Linked DNA regions of Homo sapiens. The protein of the gene in region 4 interacts with the protein of the main gene of each other region in a biochemical or structural test. Each region holds a gene or a part of one and is shown on either strand. Other genes may lie near its edges.

What was found.
Region 1: the proteins of DAPK1 (region 4) and LIMA1 form a complex in vitro, tested with the Homo sapiens proteins (one large-scale study listed by BioGRID and IntAct).
Region 2: the proteins of DAPK1 (region 4) and DUS1L form a complex in vitro, tested with the Homo sapiens proteins (one large-scale study listed by BioGRID and IntAct).
Region 3: the proteins of DAPK1 (region 4) and PRKAG2 form a complex in vitro, tested with the Homo sapiens proteins (one large-scale study listed by BioGRID and IntAct).

The regions. Positions count from the first base shown.
Region 1 is NC_000012.12:50,203,171-50,207,740, reverse strand, and holds part of LIMA1 (LIM domain and actin-binding protein 1), read left to right. Parts: intron 1-1,672; coding exon 1,673-1,757; intron 1,758-3,040; coding exon 3,041-3,189; intron 3,190-4,570. UniProt on the Homo sapiens protein: Actin-binding protein involved in actin cytoskeleton regulation and dynamics. Increases the number and size of actin stress fibers and inhibits membrane ruffling. Inhibits actin filament depolymerization.
Region 2 is NC_000017.11:82,062,655-82,067,818, forward strand, and holds the start of DUS1L (tRNA-dihydrouridine(16/17) synthase [NAD(P)(+)]-like), read right to left. Parts: upstream 3,151-5,164; 5' UTR 2,959-3,150; intron 2,861-2,958; exon of another isoform or gene 2,700-2,860; intron 2,416-2,699; 5' UTR 2,406-2,415; coding exon 2,169-2,405; intron 1,581-2,168; coding exon 1,472-1,580; intron 865-1,471; coding exon 814-864; intron 320-813; coding exon 207-319; intron 1-206.
Region 3 is NC_000007.14:151,562,266-151,566,835, reverse strand, and holds part of PRKAG2 (5'-AMP-activated protein kinase subunit gamma-2), read left to right. Parts: intron 1-950; coding exon 951-1,116; intron 1,117-1,452; coding exon 1,453-1,490; intron 1,491-2,611; coding exon 2,612-2,758; intron 2,759-4,570. UniProt on the Homo sapiens protein: AMP/ATP-binding subunit of AMP-activated protein kinase (AMPK), an energy sensor protein kinase that plays a key role in regulating cellular energy metabolism.
Region 4 is NC_000009.12:87,633,112-87,637,681, reverse strand, and holds part of DAPK1 (death-associated protein kinase 1), read right to left. Parts: intron 1-4,570. UniProt on the Homo sapiens protein: Calcium/calmodulin-dependent serine/threonine kinase involved in multiple cellular signaling pathways that trigger cell survival, apoptosis, and autophagy.

The sequences.
Region 1 (4,570 bases), on a different chromosome or scaffold from region 4:
TTTTTTGTATTTTTAGTAGAGACAGGGTCTCACCATGTTGCCCAGTCTGGTCTCAAATTCCTGAGCTCCAGCAATCTGCCCGCCTTGGCCTCCCAAAATGGTGGTTTTACAGGTGTGAGCCACCATGCCCAGTCTCACTTCCTCAAACTTTACAGTAAAGTTGATTAGTCCATTGAACTTAAAGATTTAGTAACTATTTACTAATGTTAAATTCAAAAGGGTGCTAAGTGTTTTATTCTTATCTCCTGTCATACTGGATTTCAGATATCTTTTTTAACCTCAAGTTGTCTGGAAATAAACTGAGATTTGAATGATAGGATCTGATGTAAGGATCTCATTATAAGCTGAATAAACATGACATACTCCCTGTGTACTATGTCTGGGAATATTCTTTGACACTACAGTCTTAAAAATTATAATTTGTAACTTTCATTAAAGATCTACCTTAGATATGACAGAGATAAATGTAGTAATTTAATGGAATCACAAAACACTTCATTAAAAAAAATCTTTGTTGGCCAGGCGCAGTGGCTCAAGCTTGTAATCACAGCACTTTGGGAGGCCGAGGTGGGCGGATCACCTGAGGTCAGGAGTTCGAGACCAGCCTGGCCAACATGGTGAAACCCTGTCTCTACTAAAAATATAAAAATTAGCTGAGCATGGTGGCAGGCGCCTGTAATCCCAGCTACTCAGGAGGCTGAGGCAGGAGAATCACTTGAACCTGGGAGGCGGAGGCTGCAGTGAGCCAAGATCACATCACTATACTCCAGCCTGGGTGACGGAGTGAGACTCTGTCTCAAAAAAAAAAAATCTGTGTCATCCACTTTTCTGTAAGTCCTGGAAATATATGGACAAAAAGGCATGGTCTCTGCCCTTAGTGAGCTTACAGTGCAGTAGAGGGACAGTCACCCAACAGTTTGACCAGGTACCTTGAGAACAGAGGAAAGATTACCTAAATTTATGTTGGCAAGGTACTCAGACTTCATAGTGCTTACACTGAGTCTTTGAAGGAACAGGCATTTGTAAGGCAACAGAAGGACAAAGGAGGCTGGCTCGGTAGGGACCAGATCTAGAACAGGACTTCTGTGACTTACTAAGCACTTCGAGTTTAATTTCAGGAATGAGTAGGAATGCTGAAAGAATTTTGAAAAGGAGGGTAAAATAGATTTATATTTTTGGATAATTACTTTGTATTATTGGGGATAATGGTAGCATCATAGAGACTGGATTGGAAGATAATGAAGAACCAGTTAAAGAGGTATAATGCAGTAGTCCAGGGGAAAGATGATGAAGACATGAACTAAGGCAGCAATAGCAGAAATAACATGAGACGGAGAAAGGAAACAGCAGATTCTGCATCAGCACTTGGCAGTTTAGAAGGACATGTCATTGTCATCTGGTATGTGAGGATTCCCCTCCAATAAGTGTTACAAAGCTTGCTGGTTAGGAAGCCATCTTTAGCAGAGAATATTACCTATATAGGGTTACTTATTTTTCCCTGGGCACCTGTGAATGTGTAGTGCTTGATATTTGTAATTTAAAAAAAATTCTATAGAATATAAAATATAAAATCAAATCTGGATTTTATTTATAAAGAAGGTTTGCAAGTTGAACCTTGCGTCAAGATTTCCCATTGTTTCTGCAAAACTTATCGTTGGGTTTCGTTTTCCAGATTCTCCGGGCCCAAAGCCGAAGTGCAAGTGGAAGGAAGATCTCTGAAAACAGCTATTCTCTAGATGACCTGGAAATAGGCCCAGGTAAGCAGAGAGTTCCATGTGTATGAGGTCCTTTAGGAAGTACTCACTAGTAGTAACATCTTTTGGACTCGAAGCCAATGCTTTTAAAGGAAGAGTGGCACAAATTAAAAGGAAGTCTGCCTATTAGATGCAAGCCATTCTCAAATCTCATTGCTCTCGATAAATAGCTTTTTTTTTTTTTTTTTTTTTGAGACGGAAGTTGACGTGCTCCCAAAGTGCTGGGATTACAGGCATGAGCCGTCATGCCCGGCTGCTTTTTTCATATTTTTAATCCACCCTTGTTAGTGGTAACCTATGGTAAGCAAAGGGTACTTTGAGGAGCTATAAGTAAAGTGCTACGATCAGTTTTGCCTCCAGTCATCTGGGGTTTGAGGGCTTCAGTAGATGGGCTGTGTCCCCTATCAGGTTTGGTTACCCTGTATTACCAGTGATAACATAACACTTTGAGAGTGGAATTATGTTTTAAAGGGGACATATACAGGCACTTCACAAAAGAAAAAATTAGTAAAAACAGGAAAACATCAGCTACCTAGTCATCAAAGAAATGTAAATTAAAAAGCATTGAGATCTCTTCTTTTTCATGTTAAATTAGCCAGAATTTTAAAATACGAGCCCAGGCATGGTGGCTCAGACCTATAATCTCAGCACTTAGGGAGGCTGAGACAGGAGGACCACTTAAATCCAGGAGTTTGAGACCAGCCTGGGCAACATAGACCTATCTCTACAGAAAAAAAAAAAAAAAGCCCAGCGTGGTGGTGCATCCTTGAAGTCACTGCTACTTGGGAAACTGAGGTGGTTGGATCATTTGAGCCCAAGACTTCAAAGCTGCAGTGAGCTATGATTGTACCACTGCCCCATACTCTAGCCTGGGTGACAGAGTGAGACCCTGTCTCAAAAAATAAAATATGCAATCCTCAATTATGGTAAGGTTCTTTTAATGCTAAGAAAGTGAGTGAATATTACTTTATAAATGACAATTATATTCCTGATTTTCTTCTTCGTGCTTTTAACAGAAGATATTGGCCATTAGATAAAAATAACCCAAAATTTAGAATTTTGAAATTATTTGAATCACTTTTATCTTCTAATAAAACATGTTGGCCAGTCACGGTGGTTTACACCTATAATTCCAGCGCTTTGGGAGGCTGAGGCGGGAGGATATCTTGAGCTCAGGAGTTCGAGGCTGTAGTGAGCTATGATCGTGCCACTGCACTTCAGCCTGGGTGATAGAGTGAGACCCCATCTCAGAAATAAAATAAAACATGTTATTTGGATGCTTCCAGGTCAGTTGTCATCTTCTACATTTGACTCGGAGAAAAATGAGAGTAGACGAAATCTGGAACTTCCACGCCTCTCAGAAACCTCTATAAAGGATCGAATGGCCAAGTACCAGGCAGCTGTGTCCAAACAAAGCAGCTCAACCAACTATACAGTATGTGTTCTGCATCATTCATTCATTCATTCATTCCATCATCCAGCAGATGGTCACTGAGTACTGGAATTAGGAAATGTCACCAGACCCTTGTATCTGAGCCCTGGTCCCCTAGCTGTTCTCTTTTCACATGAACCCTACCCTCGCTGGATTTGCAGTTCTTACCATGGTCTAATCCTGACTTTGCTTTCTTAGTCCTGGTTCCCACCCCACTCACTTTTTTTGTGATGTTACCAGTGAGTATCATTGAGAGTTTCCCTGGCTCTTCTACTTAATCTTTGTGTTGTTAAAGAAGTAGTATTTTATTAGTTTTAATATAACTCTTATTTTATCTTGGTTGTTGAGGGAAGAAGGAAGAAGACTGAAGAGCTTATTTTGGCTTTTGAGGGAAGAAAGAAGAAGACTGGAGAGAAATATCAGCTGTGTTCATTAACGAGGGTTTTTTTTGTGATTTTTTACTGAGATATAACTCACATAATATAAAATCACCATTTTAAAGTATACAATCTTGTGATACTTAGCATATTCACAAGGTTGTACAACCATTACCACTGTTTAATTCCAGAACCTTTCCATCACCCTGAAAAGAAACTTCATACCTGTGTAGTCACTCCCAACTTCCCCTGCTCTCATCCCCTGGCAACCACTTAGCTACTTCCTGTCTTTATGTATCTGCCTATTTTGGAAATTTCATATGAAGGAGTCATACAGTAGATCTTCTACTTAATCTTTAATCCTTACGATGTACTGTTTTCCTAAAGAAGTAGAATAGTAGATAAGGAAAAGGGAGAGATCACAAGAAGGTGACGTGCTCAGTAAGCATGAAAATTTTGATATTCAGCTGGGTGTGATGGCTCACACCTGTAATCCCAGCACTTTGGGAGGCCGAGGTGGGCAGATTGCCTGAGGTCAGGAGTTCAAGACCAGCTTGGCTAACGTGGTGAAACCCCATCTCTACTAAAAATACAAAAATTAGCCAGCATGGTGGCAGGCACCTGTAATCCCAGCTACTTGGGAGGCTGAGGCAGGAGAATCGCTGGAACCCAGGAGGCAGAGGTTGCAGTGAGGCAAGATTGCGCCACTACACTCCAGCCTGGGCGACACAGCAAGACTCCGTCTCCAGGAAAAAAAAAAAAGATTGGTATTCAAAATACAATGGAGGGTCCTTCCCCTTTACGTTGTCCTGTGCTTAACGGGTAAGCTGATGCTACAGAACTGCTAAATTGAAGTTACCTTATAGCCAGGCGCAGGAGCTCACACCGTAATCCCAACACTTTGGGAGCCTGAGGTGGGTGGGTCATTTGAAGTCAGGAGTTCAGAACCAGCCTGGCCAACATGGTGAAATCCCGTCTCTACTAAAAATACAAAAAAAAAATTAGCC
Region 2 (5,164 bases), on a different chromosome or scaffold from region 4:
CTGGAGCCAGGAAAGCAGTTTCTGTTGTAGAGGCCTGGGCTTGGGGTGGTGGCACTCAGAGCCAGTGGGGACAGGCCAGTCAGGAGGGCCACTGCCCCCATGAGGCCGACGGTGCACGGTGTCTGGACACAGGAAGAGCCTCAGCTATGTCCTCTGCGCAAAGGCCCAGCTGAGGCCCATGACACCCCCGCGAGCCCAGGGCTCACCTGGCAGCCGGCCTTCTCCAGCATCTGGGCGTACCTCACGGTCTTGTCAATCTCCGGGAAGACACGGATTTTGCACGTGACAGGAACAGAGAGTTTCTCGTGGGCCAGCAAAACTGGGGAGAAGAGAGGCAGCTTCTGAGGGGGCCATGGTGTTCCCACTTTAGCGGCCAAGCCCCAGAGCCCAGGGCCCTGCAGACAGCGGAGCCCAGGCAGCTTTGCCGGGAGGCTGGGAGGCAGCCCGGGCCACCATCTGGGTGTCTCCCTCAGGTTGCTGGGCAGGCTCCCTCCGCCATACCCCCGGCCCTCCGAAGTTCAAACAAGCAGGGCCAAGGCCGGCTCTGTCTCCCAGGACATCTGGGGCTGGGCCCGAGCAAGGACTCTGCCCTGGCACCTACTGTCTGGTTTTAAGGGGTGGGTGGTGCAGGACAGGCAACTTCACAGCCACCTCCTTCCAGCAGAGAGGCTGCTGTGGGCAGGAAGCCCCAGGGTGATGCTGAGAACTCCTGCCAACGCCTGTCCTCTCCTGAGCCCCAACCAAGTGGACAGTGCCCATGTGTCCCTCTTGAGGGTCTCTGGGGGTCCTTCACCATCCACCCAGCCAACTCACTCATTCTTTGGAGCAGGTCCCACTCGTCCTGCAGAAAGGCGCCATAGTGACCTGCAAGGAGCAAGCATGGCCTGGCTGGCACCTGTGTTAAGGCTGGTGGGGCCGAAGCCTTGCACCCCCTCTGCACCCTTTCCTGCATCCACGCAGGCCAGGAGCTGCCCTGTCAGGCGGGACACAGGTCCCCAGAACCAGCAGTGTCTCCAGTTGGGGCAGTGGGACAGTCAGAGCAGTGGTTTGTCGGCATCAGACTCAGGGGCTCTATTTGCCCAGCTGCCTAAGCTCAGAAGGTGCTGAATGGAACCCCCACCCTGCACGGTCTGGAACCAAGTAACACCTCCTCAGGGGCCCGGTGAGGTAGCAGGCTCAGCCCCACACACAGCAGTGCAAGGGGGTAATGGGGACCCTGTATCAGCAATCATGTTTATGCAGAGGGAGCTCCCTGAGGGAAGAGAGAGCCAGTAGGGCTCGGCCCCTAGCCCCCAAGGCCTGAGGACAGCCACCCTCCAGAGGCGGAGCACAGAGGACAGCTGGCTCCAGCCTGAGCCACTGTCACGACAGAGGCAGGGCCTGCCGTCCTCCAAGCTCACCACACCTGGGGCTGCACTGAGCTGGCTCTGGCCCCTGCCCCAGGTGCCCCCATGCTCCACATGGAGCTCACCTCTCTTGGCTATCATCTGTGGGCAGCCCAAGTTCAGGTCAATGGCGTCACAGTAATCCTGAGCCAGGAGAGCCGCCTGAACAAACACCTCCGGGTCATTGGCACAGAACTGGAGAAGATGCAGGAGTCAGCCACGGGCCCAGCCAGGCCCTAGTCCCTTGCTGCCCAGCCCTACGAGAGGTCCAGTGTGACCCCATGAGGGTGTGGGCCCAGGTTCACTGCAGGAGGGTGCTCTGTCCTGCGGAGGCTTACAATATGACAAAGCCGGGAGGAGTCCCCAAGCCACCCGGATTTACAGATTTTCTTCTGAACTGTGGCAGAAGCCACAATCACTGACTTCTGAAGAGCAGAGCCATCTCCACTGGTTCTGAAGAGGGAGTGTGAGTGTGAGAGGCAGCAATCCAGAGGCCCCAGCAGGGCTGCAAACCTCACAGCACCCAGGCTGCCTGAGCCACTCCTAGAGAATGGGGTTGGATTCTGGCAGGTGCACCTGGCAGCCCTGGCTCCACCACAGGAATCACTGCTGTGGCTACGTGGACTCTACATGCCTGGTGCCACCTTCTCCCTCTCCTCCTGGAATTGAGCTGTCTCTGGAAAGGCTGAAAGTGATGTCCCGCCACAGAGAGAAGGGTTTTTCCCCAGGCATTCCAGGACCGGGAACCCAACCGCGGCCGCGGCCACAGCCCCTCCTGCGCACCTGCACGATGAGGGGCCGGTCCTCGGGGCACACCTCGCAGTACAGGTTCTCCTTCCGGTAGTTGGCGTCGCGGACAAAGACCTGGGCATGCAGCATGGGCGTGTAGCAGAGCTGTGCCCCGTGGCGCCGGCTCAGCAGCCTCCAGGCCAGCTCGCTCTGGTCCACCATGGGGGCCACGACGTGGCGGGCCCCTCGCAGGGTGCGGCTCCAGAACTCGAAGCCCTGCAGCTTTGGCATCGTCTCCAGGCTGGGGGAAAGGCGCAGACCCGGGGTTCAGCCAGGCCCAACGAGGGGCTTAAGACTCAACTCAGAGGCAGCGGTCACCCTTCTAAGGCCGCTCCAGTACCACCGTTGGGTCACACGCGGGGGCACTAAAGGCGGGGGTCGGTGCAGGCTGGAGAACGGCCACTCCAGTGCCGCCACCTCCTAGCGGACCTCGGGGGAGCCGCTGGACCCCTGGGACTTGACCCTCCCTGGGGAGCGGGACTCGATGTCGGCCTGGTAGGGGACTGGCGTGAAGGGGGAAGAAACCTTGACGCCAGCGTCCCCGCGGGCCTGGCCCTGAGCAGGCCGCCCGGCGGTGAAGTTAGGACCCCCGGCCCCTTCCCGGGAGAATCGGCTCCGCGCCGGGCCAGGGGAAGGGCAGAGCTTCCTTCTCCGCACCCGGCCAGGCGGCCCGGCTGGCCCGAAACGCCACAGGGGCGCCCCTCGCGAGACTCCTCCGGAGCCACGCGGCGGGCAGCGTTTGCTGTGTGAAGTGACAGGAGCCCACACGCCTCCGCGTCCTCACCGCGCGAGGGCCCCGCCGTGTCCGCCGCGCGCCTTTGGCTCCGAGGGCGCCGGGTGCCGGTGTCCCGGGCCCGCCCCTCTCCGGCCTCGCCGCCGCCCGGGGCCCCTGCAGCTCCCGGGGCGCCGCGAACGCCCGCACCGCGCCGGGGCCGCCGCCGGGCCGCAGCCGGGCCCAAGGCTCCGCGCCGCCACCGGAAGGTGCCCGGTCCTGCGCGGTCCGGGCGGCCCACGGTGCGGCGGGAAACGCGTTCCCCGGAAACCGCGCCCGGCTCCGAGGGGACCGGCGACGAGAGGTCGCGGCGCGGGGTCGGAGGTCAGAGGCTGAGGTCACCACCGTACCCGTCAGGCCGTGGCTAGAGAGGGGTCGGGGCTCGCCGGGACTCACCGACAGCTCGCTGGAAACGAGGCATGTGGAAATTGGGCCTCGCTGAGGCGCACATAAGGCCCGGGCCGCGGGTAGACCGTGGGCGCTGAGGCCCTGCGCTGCCCAGCCCCCAAGTTCGCATTGGGGGCTTCATCCCGTTATATCCTAAAGCGGCCCCAGAGCCCTGCCTCGAACCCACTCACCTGCCGCCTCTGAAAGCCACTCACTTTCCGCCGCTGCGTTGCGGAAAATCACCCTCCAGGGACCTTCCTTGCCCGCCCTGGGTTTCCGCAGCCGCCAGCCTTCGATCGACTTTCCTACCCGCCGTGGACCCTCCTTGGGTTATTTCGAGCTGTGGGGACCCACTGGGAACCCCAGAGTGGATGTGAAGGTTATTTTAAACTGAAGGCATTTGAGACCCAACAGATGTAAAAAGCAGCTTTGTCAGAGCTTTCCATATCTGAGAGCGAAGCCCGAAGTTGAACCAGGACATTCAGTACCTAAAACATGTGAAATCTCTTGGGCCCCCGGAATCACTAAGGAAAACTCAGGCTGGAAGCTGCTCAGGGCAAACCTGCCTCCCGCTCTATTCAGAGTCACCCTCTGCTCGCTGAGATAGATGGATATCTGACTGACTCCTTTGAAAAGGCTCATCAGAAGGCTGGGCGCGGTGGCGCACATTGAGACCAGGAGTTCGAGACCAGCCTGGCCAACACGGTGAAACCCTGTCTCTACTGAAAATACAAAATTAGCCAGGTGTGGTGGTGCGCCCCTGTAGTCCCAGCTACTCGGGAGGCTGAGGCAGGAGAATCGCTTGAACCTGGGAGGCGGAGGTTGCAGTGAGCCGAGATCAAGCCATTGTACTCCAGCCTGGCGACAGAGCAAGACTGATCAAAAAGGAAAAGAAAAAAAAAAAAGGCTAATCAGAAACTCAAAACAATGTAACCGTTTGTGTATCACCTATCTGTGACCAGGAAGCTCCCTCCCCGATGGCTTTTGCTTTAAATTGTCCCGCCTTTCCAGACTGAACCAATTTTTTTTTTTGAGACGGAGTCGCTTTCTGACCCAGGCTGGAGTGCGGTGGCGTGATCTCGGCTCACTGCAACCTCCATCTCCCAGGTTCAAGCGATTCTCCTCCCTCAGCTTCCCAAATAACTGGGATTACAGGCACCCACCAACACACCCAGCTAATTTTAGTATTTTTAGTAGAGATGGGGGTTTCACCATGTTGGCCAGGCTGGTCTCGAACTCCTGACATCAGGTGATCCGCTGGCCTCCCAAAGTGCTGGGATTACAGGCGTGAGCCACCGCAGCTAGCCGCTATGTTCATCTTACATATATTGATTGATGTCTCATGTCTCCCTAAAATGTATAAAACCAAGCTGTGCCCCAACCACCTCAGGCACATGTTGTCAGGACCTCCTGAGGCTGTGCCATGGGCATGTCCTCAACCTTGGCAAAATAAACCTTCTAAATTAACTGAGACCTGTCTCAGATTTTCTGCATTCACAGATAGAACAGCCTTGGTGGTCTTCAGAGGTGGCCAGATGTCCCTGGTGGACTGCAAGGTTGGGTGCACACTAAGGAAAGACAGGCGAGGGCCCCAGCTGTCCACCGCCCTGGCTGAACGTGAGGCTTTGTACAAGCAAAAAGTAAAAGCCAAGTCCAAATTGTAAAAACTACCTGAATTCCAAATGCAGCCACAACCCACACACAGCGCCATCAGCAGAGGCTGGAGGCCCTACTGGTTCAGAATATTTAAGCACAGTATCGAACCAGTAATTGTAAAAGGTAAAAGATTTTTTTTTTAAGACAGAGTCTCGCTCTGTCACCCAGGCTGGAG
Region 3 (4,570 bases), on a different chromosome or scaffold from region 4:
GAGAAAAAAGGAGCATTACCCTTCAAGACGTTTGAAAATTAGCCTAAGCCTATAGTGTGCAACAGGGAATTCGCTATGTTGAGATGGACTAGATGACCTAATAGGGCTTTCTTTTTTTTTTTCTCTAAATTTCTAGGAGTCTCATGATTTGAATATTGATGAACTCTTTGACTTGAACATTTTGTTTCTTCTAATTGTTCATCTTTTCCTGATAATTATAAGGTACACCAGGAGGATGGAATCAACTATACCCTTTATAAAAGGTGGATTTTTGAAACCGTAGACCTTATTTTGTTATACTCAAACATGATCCTAGACTTTTCTCTCCTGCCATATCCCTCCTCCTTTAAAACAGCCCATGAAAAGTTAATTTTTAAAGATTCTTTTAATTCTGTTCAGCTGGCTTCTTTGTTCCTAGTAGACAAAAATTGGAGCTCTCCAAGGAGAATTCAGGATGTAGAGGCGGGTGGCGTGAGGACTAGCTTAGCAGTGGCTCAGACAGCTGCCGTCAAATGCTTTGGGTTTGGAAATGTATAGGTTCTTAATAAATATTACTTAATCCTGACAGCAGGACCAGGAATTTAACATGAACAATTAAGAATAAAGGATTCAATTCTTCGTGGCTTACAGGTCTTAATATCCCAAATAGACCTGTTCTTCCCTGGTTCTATACGCGTTCTTAGTGAGTGAAGAGGAGATGGAAAAAGATTACAGTATCAATGCTCTGCAATAGTTTGTGAATAGTTAAATAGAAGCATAGACCTACAAACTGGTTCAAACAAAAGATACAGTCCTTTGTAATTTTCTCATGTTAATTCAGGCATCCAGGTAGACTGTTAGAAAAAACTAACTTTAATTTGTTGGACATACTTTTTCATTCAAATCTGGACCTTTGAACATGACAAGAGTGTGTTCTGGGTCTAGAACGTTTGCGTTTATCTTCCGTTTAGATGTCTGATATGCCAAAGCCTGCCTTCATGAAGCAGAACCTGGATGAGCTTGGAATAGGAACGTACCACAACATTGCCTTCATACATCCAGACACTCCCATCATCAAAGCCTTGAACATATTTGTGGAAAGACGAATATCAGCTCTGCCTGTTGTGGATGAGTCAGGTTTGTGTGTTTGGCGCTGACAGGCAGAAATAATTGTTTATCTCAGGGTGCAATTATTGTAAGATGACCTGGCACAGGAGATACGTGGGGAAAATGAAAACTTGGGTATGGTGAATAAATTCAGCACCAAGGGGCACGCAGGATCGTAAAAAAAGTTTAATTGGTTTATTTTCATATGTCCATTAAAATATGATTTCATATCTAAGTTTTCATTTAAAATAGACAAGGTTATTTATCAGTGTTTAACTTTTAGTAATTATGTCATTAAAACTGATTTTAAATGAATTTCTTTTTGTCCCTTAAGACATTTTTCTAACATATATTTTTCATTTTTAGGAAAAGTTGTAGATATTTATTCCAAATTTGATGTAATTGTAAGTATTTTAATTTTGTTCAATCTGTCACCTAGAATGCATTTTAAACATTCATGTAATGTGTTTTTATGTTTTTATCTTGTTTCTTAATTTAATAATTTCTAACCTTTTGGGGTGTGAGGATATTATCAGAATTTTATAGACCTTCTATAGTAATTGTACTTTTAATCTGCATTGGTTTAGCAACCAATTATATATTAGTAGCATTTTATAATTTTTCATCTTTACAATACATGCATATTTTATGCACTGCCACAGCATGTGTATATATTTTAAATGTTCTTGTTTCCACGTAGGAGGCCTGATTTATTCGCCTCTAGACGCGTGCGCAGTGCACACGTGGACTCATGGCTCCTTTGTCGGGCGCATCCCATTGCTTAGTGATTGGGAGCCACTGTTCTAAAGAAGAAAAGGGGACTGACACTTTATAGCCCCAAATGTGCACGCCATTTTTTGCCACAATACTGACCCCACATTAAACATTCTTCTGCAGCTGCCTCAAACCCTTTGCTTCACACTATTATGTTAAACATAACAGTCACCGAGAAATATGCTGATCGGCATTTTGGTTGAGTGGGACCCGCTAAAATGAATGAGAGCCCCATGAAGCCATTTGGATCCATGGGGCTCCTCAAGCCTGTTCTTCCTCTGGTTGCTTGATCCCCATGGGTCCCCCAAAGCCTTCCCAGCAGAAACCTTGTTCCCCAGGGAGCTTGTTGAGAAGGTCCGTTGCTGCAGCATTTCTAGCCCTGTGGCACTCACCACCCTTTACAGATGTCAGCCCACCTTGCCAGAGATTTCATCCATGCATGGTAGAGAGCATTAGAGGGTAAAAATTGGGGGGCAGTCTTTGGCAGGATATACTGTCAAAGTTTAACAATGTTGCTTCGTAAGGAAGGTAGACCTTGTAACATGGTTATCTTTAATTGTGATTGATATGTTGACAAAATAACAGTAGCAATGGCATGTCGTAAGCCAGAAAGAACGTCTGATGTATGCAGGTACTAAATTCAGATAAGCATTAAAGTTTTTAGAAATCAGGCTCTCTTAAGCTCACTAATTTTGGTCATTGAAGTGAACTGAAATGAAAGGATATAATTTATTCTCTTGCTTCATTACAGAATCTTGCTGCTGAGAAAACATACAATAACCTAGATATCACGGTGACCCAGGCCCTTCAGCACCGTTCACAGTATTTTGAAGGTGTTGTGAAGTGCAATAAGCTGGAAATACTGGAGACCATCGTGGACAGAATAGTAAGAGCTGAGGTGAGACGGCTTTCCCAGTCCTGCTCCCCCGACGTCCACTGCAACAAGTCCCCAGTAGTGAATGATGCCTCTGGAAGCCTGAATCTCAGGAAGGGCCCAGCGAGGCAGCCTCCAGGTTCAGTCGATGGGATTCCCTCCTGTCCCAGAACCTGGCACACTACTTGGCATATAGGCGATCTCTAAAAGTTTGTTGAATTGAATTGAATGGAAAAGTCCTGGTATCATAGGTGAATCCAATAAACTGGTAAGATACATTCATAGTTTAAACTATATATGTTTGACAGTGTGGACGACATAATAAGACCTTGTCTCTACTAAAAATAAAAATAAATTAGCTGGGCATGGTGGCTTGGACCTGTAGTCATAGCTAATAGGGAAGCTGAGGAAGGAGGATCCCTTGAATCCAAGAGCTTGATATTTCAGTGAGCTGTGGCGGTGCCACTGCACTCCAGTCTCGACAGCAGAGCAAGACCCTGTCTCTAAATAGATCGATGTATCTGTATCTATGGATACATTTTGTTTTGAGAAAACAAAAATCCCAGAAGCTTTAAGTTCCATTTGAATATTTATGAATTCAAAATTTAAAGTGCGTAATATATATTTTAACAAAGTGAATGATAAGTCAGTAAAACTTTTTTCTCTCTTCCCACCAGTATCTCTCTTTCCTCAATTAGATAAATAGCAAATAATCTAGTAACTCCCAGTTTCCTGCACCTCAGCAGTCCAATTTCCTTAGACTTTACTGCTTATAAGATTTTCAAATGTACTTTGTGTAACACCCTAAATAAAAGACTCCGCCTAAAAAGAAAATTCCTTCACAAGATGACTCCTCACAGAAGGACCAAAAAAATAACAGTTTTTAGCTTTAATGTAGCTAGGAGAAGGGTGTACAGTATCAGTGATGATTCCATTTGTTTATATGACATAAATAGAACACTAACTTTTAGGTACCTCCAACAAAGGACATACATAAGTTTGACTCAGCAGCAGATGACAAGAAAATACGTGGGGAGTCATTTCAGTCTGAGAGAACTGCTTAATTCTCTGGATGAGATGGTTTCCCTTAGCCTTCAGAGTTCAAAAGATATCTGTTTAATATCCACTATTTTTTTTTTTTTTTTTTGAGACGGAGTCTTGCTCTGTCGCCGAGGCTGGAGTGCAGTGGCGTGATCTCGGCTCACTGCAAGCTCCGCCTCCCAGGTTCAAGCGATTCTCCTGCCTCAGCCTCCCGAGTAGCTGGGACTACAGGCGCCCGCCTAATTTTTTGTATTTTTAGTAGAGACGGGGTTTCACCTTGTCAGCCAGGATGGTCTCGATCTCCTGACCTCGTGATCTGCCCGCCTCGGCCTCCCAAAGTGCTGGGATTACAGGCATGAGCCACCGCACCCGGCTAATATCCACTATTGAATGTAACCAATAAAATGTCTTCAGTGTAGAAGACAAATGTGAACTATCATTTTAATGTGTGATTATAGTTAGCAAATAATTGTGCTGTGTTATATCACAGGATTACTGATGAACCTGAAAGCTTTTTTAGAGAAACATTTAAAAGAAATTTATGTTGACTGCCACGGGAAAGATGACCAAGCCATTATTATTATTATTATTATTAACCTAAAGCAACCTATGACAGAAACATCACCCAAACAGTATTATTTGAGACAAAATACAAAAACTGGATTTCCCCCTCTTCCTATCTCCTTCCTATGTCCCTGTTTTCTATCAGGGGTATCACTGTTCAATACAGAGAGGGTCTCCCAGGGCGCAGCCGGCACAGAGCTGCCGTGGCCCAGGTTCTGAAGCCTTTTTTTT
Region 4 (4,570 bases):
GTGAAGAAAATATCAGTGTATCTTGAAAACATTTTAATTAAACATACTTAGAGGTGATGTCTTAACTCTAATGACGAGAAAAAAATCTGCAAGCCAGCTTTGTACAGAATTTATAGTGTATATCTTCTTATTTCAATTAGAGAGTACCTGAAAAGTTCATAACTTGCATGTTTAATTAATTCTTTAAAACTCAAATTCACAATATATGGTCTGATAAGGGTTTTTTCCTCTCTTGTCTAGTATTGGTTTGTATGTAAATACTAACACATTTATAAAAATCACATTTAGTAGCCTGGGCGCAATGGCTCACACCTGTAATCCCAGCACTTTGGGAGGCTGAGGCGGGCGGATCACAAGGTCAAGAGATCGAGACCATCCTGGCCAACATGGAGAAACACCGTCTCTACTAAAAATACAAAAAACAACTGGGCATGGTGACGTGTGCCTGTAGTCTCAGCTACTCGGGAGACTGAGGCAGGAGAATCACTTGAACCTGGGAGACGGAGGTGGCAGTGAGCCAAGATTGTGCCACTGCCCTTCAGCCTGGTGACAGAGCGAGACTGTCTCAAAAAAACAAAAAAAAAGAATACATTTACAAAAAAAGCAAAATGTATGTTGTTGGTTGCGGATTTTTTTAGTTTATTTCTCTGTCCAGACTGTAAGTGGGTGGAGGGGAGTGGTCAGAACCTCCCACCCCAGCTATTGGCTACTGCTGTATGCCCCACTCCCCGCCAGAGCCAGGCACACAGCATGCATTCAAAACTTTATCAGGTGGATGGACGAACAAGCTCCCCTAAAAACTCCACGATAGCGATGAATGGCAAATAACAGGGAAGTTTTAATAAGAGTTTTTATAAGTTAATCTTTATCAAGTTTAACCATATATTCACAACATAATAATTAAGTGCAATTATGCACAAACTGCTGTATTCATTATCTCTCTTAGGGCAAGAGCGCTCCCCAAACATTATACCTTCCACATCTACATCCATTCAGAGTAAGAAAATTGGTGCTCATAAGATCAGATAAGAATGACAAAAAAGCTGTTTTCTTAAAAGTTTCAGATCCCACATGCCTTCACCCTCCAGGTCAGTGTTTTCCTTAGCACGGTCTAGAGTCCATGGGTATCAGAATTATTTGAGGATGCTTTAAAAATGAAGATTCTGAGCCTCACTTTCAATCTGCTGTGTGAGGGCTTCCAAGAATGGTGACCAGAAAACTCAGCATCTTTAACAAGCACCTGAAAAACTGAGACCATTTTCCCACGTCTTAATTCCACGCTCCTGCTGCAGGGCCTCCCACTGGTTTACGGGGATGGTGGAGTGACTCTCCTATCCCCAGGGGCCTGGCAGAGGTAGCCACACCCTCCTGTGAGCAGTCCACAGGCCTCCCCTATCCTCCAGGGGACACAGCAGGGCCTGGGCCCAGCCAGGACATCCAGGAGTCCAAGCGAAAGGTGTCCTACATGGACCCTGCCTCAGCAGTGGCCTTGCTCTCCTCCTGACCCTTCCCTGCACTCCCCACCCTGCTCTTGGGAGATGCAGTCTGCCCCCACCCTCTCCCCTCCCAGGTGTCCTTGGCCTCACAGCCCCCACACTGTCTGCCCACGGAACAAGGCAAGGCCTCCCGCTTCTCACTTTTGCATCTTATTCTTAAAACAAACAACGGGGAGAGAAAATCCTTCAACTATAGGGGGGAAAAAGTGGGAGATTGTGAACCAACCTCACCCAAAGAAAGCTCTCCCATCACACCTGGGTCTCCAGCCCTGGCTTCTGTGCTCTCTGGGGCGCCCCGCACCACTGGGCTGACTCAGGCACCGTGGCCACGTGATGTGGAGAAGTCAAGTGCCTGCATCCAGTCCAAGTCTTAACTTCTGCCACGCGCTCACCCTGAAACCCGGAAGGTTACCCCTTCTCTTGAGCCTCATTTCCCCAAAGAGGAGTCATAAGACCTCTTCCCTTGAAGGTTATGAGGATGAAAGGTAATAGACATGTGTAACTGGCAAGGCTGGCACGTGGGTAAGGTCCAGCTTGCGGGAACGAGTGTTGTTATAAAGAAGGCCACTGTCACCCCTGTAGCATACCACTGCTTCCTACAGGATCCAATATGAAAGCCCCTTCCTGCCCGCTCCTCCTCCTAAAACTGGTCCATTGGTTGAGCCTAACCACTGTGCTTCCCAGGAAGAAGGTGAGGGGAAGGAACTGAAACTTCTGCTGTGAATGTGGTGCCCAGCCGCCGGCTTTCTCTCCGTGGCCCTCTTCAGGGCCTCCCGAGCCCACCTCACTCGCATTCTGCTTGTGTTGTCTTAGAGTACAGAGATGCATTTTTCAGACAATGAGAAACGTCAGGAGTTTGGCTGCCTGGTTGGGGTGAATCTTCCAGCACCCACACAGCTGGCGCAGTCTGCTGGCCCTGAGTCCTTTCCAGGGACTCCACTGTCCAGCCTTCTGGCAACCCCATGCTGCCCTGGCCTCAGGCTTTGCCCGCTCTTCTCTGGCCAGCTTTCTCTCCCTCCCTGCCAACCTAAGCTTTCTTCAGACCCAGGATCTCCTTCTCCTGCCAGCTCCGTCTTCTGTGAGGCAGGATGGCAAAAACGAGGGGACCATGGTTCAAATCCTGCCAGGGCCTCCAACCTTGCTGAGCCTCTGACTCCCCTTCTATAAAATAAAGGGTAACATCATAGCTTACGGAGTCATCCTGAGGTTCCAGGACATGTAGCGACCCTTAGTGCTCAATAAATGCTGCTGTCTTTCTTCCCATGTGGCTTCAAACCAGAAGTCCTCCCATGGCAGCAGGGGTGTGCAGCAGGTTCTTTGGCGTTGGGGTGGGTAGAGCCCATTCCCGAGGTGTCACATTCCCACCATGGCCATCTCAAACTCCCTCCCCACGTGATGTCAGGGACCGTGGGTGGAGTTGGGGAGGGACAGGCACTGCAGCGGTGACCTGGGTGAGCTGGGATTGACACGGCACTGCCGAGCAGCCACCTGGCCTGCCATGGTGTTCCACATTTTTCCGAAGACGGTCTGACAGCATCTCATCCTCATGCTCTTCTGCACCGTGATTGTGCCATCCTCCTTCAGGCAGTGGGCGGCATCTGTGGCTCCATCTCTTGAATCTGGGCAGGCCCCATGATCACTTTGACCAATGGCACAAGTGATTTTGCCAGCCCTGCTGTGGCTTTTCATGGACTGGGGGCCTCCAGGTCCCACCTCCTGAAGCCCTCAGGTAAGATGCAAGAAGTACGACGATGCCAAACCACTGTGCCACGTGGAGAAACCCAGGAAGAAGAGATGTCCTTGGAGAACAAGGCCAAGGAGCCTCGAGCAAGGAAGGCACCTTAGAAGGGGACCCTCCAGCGCAGCCGAGGCCACAGAGGTCAGAGACTGTCCATTCAGCAACTGATCAATGAGGGAACATAACAGGGCCTGCCAAACTTCCATCAAGGGCAGATCCTAAATATTTTAGGCTTTGCCAGCCTTGCAGTCTGTCCCAACTACTCAGCTCTGCTAATGTATCATGAAAGCAGCCACAGATGACATGTACATGATGGGTGTGGCTGTGTTCCAATAAAACTTTAGTTAAAAAATAGGTGGCAACCTGGGTTTGGCCTATAGGCCATAACTTGCTGATCCCTGATATAAAGACTAGGTCATCACAGCCCAACCTGGGGCAACTCTCAAGGGTCATTCTGGCCCCAGAACTCCCTGTTGGCCAACTGGGGCTGCCACTAAACCCATTCCTGCCCCCTTCTCCTCTTCTCCAAATCTTGATCCTAAGTATAGTTCTTAATAAACACCATGCACACTCTTCTCCATCTCAGAGTCTGCTTCCCAGGGAACCCAAGCTACACCCCACTGGGTCTGGGATAGTTTTTTACATAGCCATAGAAGGCTAGAACATGCACCATCTTGAACTGGGCTTGTTTACTAGGCTCAGCCAATGGAAATTAGGCTTGCCCTTCTCTGGCCTGGTCATCTCGTGCCTTATTCAGTATTTGCGTCCTCAGAAACTCAACTCCACAGGAGTAAGGACAATGAATAACCCTGGAACCCCAAGAGTTAGGGACCAGGACTGCAAAGTGTAGTGACTGATCAAGACTGGGAGAAGGAGAGCACTAGTTGATCCTCTTAGTTTTCATCATTGACCCTTCTCACAAGTCCCTGTTCAAATCTCAACTTGTTATGAAGCAGTCCATGTCATGGCTGTCCAGGCAACCAAGTCCTTCAGTTAGACATTAGAAAGGTTAGGAGAGTCCCTATCCCACTAGGTCAGGACTTATCAACTGATGCCCAGAAGGCCCTATGTATTCACTCCATCCCCCCTCACCCATACGCACATATACTCATCTTCCTTCATATCTACATATGTACACATCCCCTTTCATCCCTACATACCCATCCCCCTTCATCCCTACATTTCCTTCATTTCTACATATGGACTCATATTCCTTCATCCCTACATATGTACTCAATCTCCTTCATCCCTACATATATACTGATCACCCTTCATCCCTACATATATACTCATCCTCCTTCATCCCTACATGTACACTCATCTTTCTTTATTTCTA